2 separate regions of the Homo sapiens genome follow, and region 2 is linked to region 1. The links come from fine-mapping of genetic effects on gene expression. A gene starts in region 1. The other region holds a variant in brackets. All regions are shown on one strand. Distances are from middle to middle.

Region 1 (2,925 bases):
TCTTGAAGTAACTAATACAAATTCTGTTGTTAGTCTTTTAGGATATGACTTTCAGATTTAAGCTCTGATACTTAATAAAATGTGTCTTAAAGTCTCATTGGTAAATTGGGAGAAAATGTCATTTAGCATATAAAATAGTCTGAAGATGAAGTAAAATAATCCACATAAGGCTGGGTGCGGTGGCTCACGCCTGTAATCCCAGCACTTTGGGAGGCCGAGGCGGGTGGATCATGAGGTCAGGAGTTCGAGACCAGCCTGGCCAAGATGGTGGGATTACAAGCATGCACCATCACGCCAGACTAATTTTTGTATTTTTAGTAGTGATGGGGTTTCGTCATGTTGGCCAGGCTGGTCTCGAACTCCTGACCTCAAGTGATCCGTCCGCCTTGGCCTCCTAAAATGGTGCGATTACAGGCGTGAGCCACCACACCCGGCCAAATATGAGAACGTTAATGAGATTCAGCTCAATGGCTCCCAACATCTACTGGAAAGAAAGCAGATTGGTATTAGGACATTCAGACACATTTCAGATGAAGTAAAACATACTCTAAAACCAGTAACCTTAGGAAAGAAAAAAGCCAACTAGCCTAAACATTGAGTTTTAGATGTGAAAGAATTTTTTTCCTCCTCATTAGAGTCCTTTTGAGGAATAGCAGGACCAGGGAGGGAGAAAAAAATCATGAGTTATCAGGCCTTTCCTTGAAGCACGGAATGCCTCCTTACACAATACCCTCCACGCCTTCCCTGTTCACACACTTTAACACATGGAGGTAGGAGAGAGGCTGGAATCTGGGTATGAGTTCACAGCAGGTTCCTGGGGTCAGAGCTCTGGGAAAGACGAGGTTCTGAGACAGGTAGCTCGCTCTCAGAGCTCACAAAGAAATAACCTCCCAGGCGTTTCCAATCTCACAGCAAGTCAATGCCTTCTTGCTGGAAAACTTGATGTAGAGTTCAGTATCCAACTTCCCTCTTGCAGACATTTTTTGTGTGTGTCAGCCGCAAGCAGCTGTGAGGAGGGAGGAGAGAAGCAGCAGCCGGGAACCTACAGCCAAGACTCAAAGTGACACCGCAGTGCCACCGCAATCAACGTACATGAAAAGGACAAGCACCTCATATCCCCGTCACGCAAGCACAGCCACTCACTCACCTGTCACAGCCTCACAACCGCACCCACCGTCAAGGAGGCACATCCCAGCCTCTCACACGCAGTTTCTCTGTCACACACTCTCAAACATTCCCCATCTGACATATACAACATTCTCTCACGTGCGCACTCAAATACCCTCCTCTGCTGTTCATGCACCCACGGGCCTGAGATTCCGATAACAACTGGCCGTCCACACTAGAGGCTTCCACGGTTAAAGGGCTTCCTCCACCACCCCGGCTGGTTTAGGTTGGGCTCCAACGTAACTTGATTGCCCAGAGCCCTCCCTGCGAGTACTCTGTGCCTGTTATATACTGAAATGAGTTCAACCCACCTTGCAAAAGAACCACGCGAAAACGGAAGGGAAGCCATAGATTGGGTGTTCCCGTTGCCCTCTGGGAAATGTAGTTTAAGCCTAAAGCTCCATGACCGCGGTGGCTTGTGGGAAAAGTGGCTCGGAACCCCAAATCCCGGTTAGATTGCAGGCACCGCCGGACGCTGGCTCCCGGAGGTTTTAGTTTTCCCTCTACCAGGAGTGTGAAGACACAGAGACTTATTGCGCTGGCGAAGATGGCTGAGGCGAAGGCGTGTCCGACTTGTCCTCGGAGTTCTGAGGGTTTCAGTGACCCCAGAAGGCTGAGAAGTGGAATCCGAACTCGAGGCTGCCCGAAGCCTCGGGCTGTTTGAGTGTAGAGCCGGTAGGGGAGGGCTTTCAAAGTGTGGCCGCGAGGGCGAGCGTGGGGGATCGGTTATGAGCTCCCGAGGGCGGGGACTCTGCTCTGTGTCCCCTGAGGAAGTCCAGTCTTGTTATAAGGTATGAGAAAAGTAACTTTTTAAAAATGGACAAATAATAATTGTATGTTTTATATACTGATAGGGTACAATATGCTGTTTTGATCTATGTTTACAATGCGAAATGATTAAATCAAGCTAATTAAATCCATCACCTCACTTTTTTGTGGTGAAAACATTTAAAATCTACTTTTAGCAATTTTGAAACATGCAACACATTATTTATGTAGTTGCTATTCTATGCAATCGATTAACAAAGTTTATTTCTCCTGACTAACTGAAATTTTGTACTGTTTTAATTAACATCTCCCTTTTCCCCATTTTTCAGTCTCTGGTAAACACCATTCTTTGCCTCTTAAGAGTTAGACTTTTTTAGATTCCACAAATACCACTTATGTGGTATTTGGTATTTATCTTTCTGTTACTGGCTTCTCTCACTTAGCATAATGTCCTCCTGGTTTATCCATGTTGTCACAGATGACAGAATTTTCCTTGTTTTATTTTTATTTTTTATTTATTTTTTAAAAATCTATTTACTTATTATTATTTTTTGAAACGGAGTTTCGCTCTTGTCACCCAGGCTGGAGTGCAGTGGCACAGTCTCAGCTCACTGCAACCTCTGCCTCCCCTGTTCAAGCGATTCTTGTGTCTCAGCCTCCCAAGTAGCTGGGATTATAGGCATGCGCCACCACGTCGGCTAATTTTTGTATTTTTAGCAGTGACAGGGTTTCACCATGTTGATCTGGCTGGTCTCGAACTCCTGACCTCAGGTGATCCACCCACCTTGGCCTCACAAAATGCTGCATTTACAGGCGCGAGCCACTGTGCCCGGCCGATTTTCCTCTTCTTAAAAAGTGAATAGTATTCCTTTATATATACATATATATATGTGTATAAGGTTATATACATAATATATATAATATGTAACATTTTCTTTATCCACTTATAACATGCTGGACACCTAGGTTGCTTCCGTATCCAATGCAGAA
Region 2 (2,925 bases), 160 kb before region 1:
AATTCTCCTGCCTCAGCCTCCCGAGTAGCTGGGATTACAGGCGCCTGCCACCACGCCCGGCTAATTTTTGTATTTTTAGTAGAGATGGGGTTTCACCATGTTGGCCAGGATGGTCTCGATCTCTTGACCTTGTGATCCACCCACCTTGGCCTCCCAAAGTGCTGGGATTACTGGGGTGAGCCACTGCACCCGGCCTGCTCTGTCACTTTTAAACTGAACAGCCCCTCATCTTTATGTCATTTTATTGGCTTTTAGAAGAGTCCATCACAGTTGTCGTAGAATATCCTGGATTCTGGGTTTGTCGTATTTTATTTCTGCATAATGTTGTTCCTCTTTTTCCTCTGTCTCCAAACTGAAACTTAAACAGCAGCTTGATTTGCTTCTGGTCAAACATTTTTAGCAAGAATACTTCATAGGTATAATACAGTCTGTACACACAGGAGGCATATAATGGCAGGTTGTCCTTTTATTAGTGATGCTACATTTGGTTAAGGTAGTGACTGCCAGATCTCTCCATTGTAAAGGTATGTTATTTTCTTTGCAATTAGTAAGTAATTTGGTGATAATTTGCACCTCCTCTTACAAATTTACAATCATCTACATGTATAATACAAGTCATGGATTAAACTGGAAATCAAAAGTTAAATATTGATTTAACAGAAAGCAGTGATATTGAAATGCCTACATATTGAAATCTGTAGGATGTGGCCAAGACTCTACTCAGTGGTAAATTAACATCCCTTAATGCATACAGAAAACCACGATTTGGGGATAGAACATTTTGTTCTCTGTATCCTCAACACGACTGTGACGCCTTTTGCATAGTAGGCACTTGATAAAACTCGGGAAAAAATAAGTATTTAACTCAAGAAACAAAAAAAGGTACCAAATAAAGCAGATGCTAAAAGAAGGAACTAGTTAATGCAATTAAAATTAGAAATTAAGTAATAAGCAGATTATAGACTTATTCAATTTTTCCAAATCCAGTAAAAAGAAAAAAACGATGACACAGTTATAAGTGTCACGAATTTAAAAAGGACATTACCAGAGATATCGATGTCATCCCAGCTACTCGGGAGGCTGAGGCAGGAGAATTGCTTGAACCCAGGAGGCGGAGGTTGCAGTGAGCCGAGATCACGCCACTGCACTCCAGCCTGGGCGACATAGCGAGAGTCCGTCTCAAAAAAAAAAGTGACAGAACCACCAAAATGTTACAATGTATGATCCTGAGAGTAAATCCTTGTTAAATATCTATGAAATATATTCCTGGAACAATTATGGAAATTTCAACATGGAATGGATATTATAAGATTCTATGGAATTGTTAATTTTTAGGGTGTGATTTTAGTACTTTGGGTATATGTATTACCATTACTTTTAGGATGTCAAATTATAAGAAAGTAGTATCATTTCAATGTATATAAAATTCCA[G/C]AGCTAATGAAGTCTTTTCTAGAAAATGTACTTCATTGAAATTTACACAACATAATCATGCTTGAGTGAACTAGTAAATGGAAAACGTAAATTCAGCTTAAGCTATAGAACAAGCTAGAACAACACAGTCTGCTAGCACAATCTGTTTTAGTTTAATAAAAACTTCAAGGATAATTGTTACCAGAATTTTCCCAGCTCATGATACATGGCTGACATAATCCAAATGATAAAACTAGAGAGAATAGTTACTAAAAACCAAAATTTAAATGAGTCCTAATTAAAGAGAAAAATCAAAATGCTAAATAAAATGTCAGCAAAATGATACAATTTTTCAGTAAATATATCTGAAATGTGCAGGCACTGGAATATTCTGGTTCTATACATATGCAGCTTAAATTATGGAAAAAGAATTGCTACAGTCCTATTATCATCTAGATTCATTATCATATATATATATATACACATATATATATATTAGCCTTACTATCACTGATACCTCCTGATTTCATCAATGCTAAAAAGCCCCACCCAAATCTCATCTCAAATTATAATTCCCACATGTTGGGGGAGGGACCCTGTGGGAGGTGACTGGATCATGGGGGTGGTTCCACCATGCTGTTCTCATGATAGTATGTTCTCATGAGATCTGATGGTTTAAAAGTGTTTGGCAGTTCTCCACCCCCCTCTCTCTCTCCTACCACCATGTAAGACATGCCTTGCTTCCCCTTCACCATGTGCTATGACTATAAGTTTCCTGAGGCCTCCCCAGCAATGTGGAACTGTGAGTCAATTAAACCTCTTTCCTTTATAATTACTCAATCTCAAGTAGCTCTTTATAGCAGTGTGAAAATGGACTAATACAATGTCTTGTGAAAACGTTCATTGATATTTTTAGTAAGATAAGCCTTGTGCCAGTATCAAAGCATTTTATATTTGATGGGATATGGTGTATGTATATATACACATGCACATACACAAACCAGACACAAAGACTTATTTGAATTTAATGTTCACAAGAATTTCCTGAAAACAACTGTCAGGGCAAAGGCATTTTAATAATGTTTTCATTTAATTTTTTTTTTTTTTTTGAGACAGCATTTTGCTCTTTCACCCAGGCCAGAGTGCAGTGGTGCGATCTTGGCTCACTGCAACCTCTGCCTTCTGGTTTCAAGCGATTCTCCTGCCTCATCTTCCTGAGTAGCTGGGATTACAGGTGCCTGCCACCACACCCGGCTAATTTTTGTATTTTTAGTAGAGACGGGGTTTCACCATGTTGGCCAGGCTGGTCTCGAACTCCTGAACTCGTGATCTACCCGCCTTGGCCTCCCAAAGTGCTGGGATTACAAGTGTGAGCCACTGCAGCCAGCCCTAAATTTTTATAAATGGTATTGGGACTATTATATACACATGCATATACACACACACATATAAACAGCTCCCGAAAATATAAACAACTTTTGGTGAATTAGGAACAATGGAGAATACCTGAAATAG

What was found. PIP is the estimated chance that this variant, and not a neighbour inherited with it, causes the effect.
Region 2: its variant is fine-mapped to the expression of ZNF573 in whole blood (INTERVAL, PIP 0.99).

Annotation. Positions count from the first base shown.
Region 1 is chr19:37,778,066-37,780,990 of GRCh38, forward strand. ZNF573 (zinc finger protein 573) reads right to left here and starts at 1,521. Exons shown (of 5, transcript NM_001172690.2): 1 at 1,479-1,521. RefSeq lists enhancers at 1,009-1,672, 1,464-1,758, 1,465-1,814, 1,673-2,335.
Region 2 is chr19:37,615,153-37,618,077 of GRCh38, forward strand. No RefSeq gene overlaps it. Among named protein-coding and RNA genes, the nearest start is that of ZNF540, 22 kb to the left of the region's middle. The variant G/C (reference allele first, on the strand shown) is at 1,432.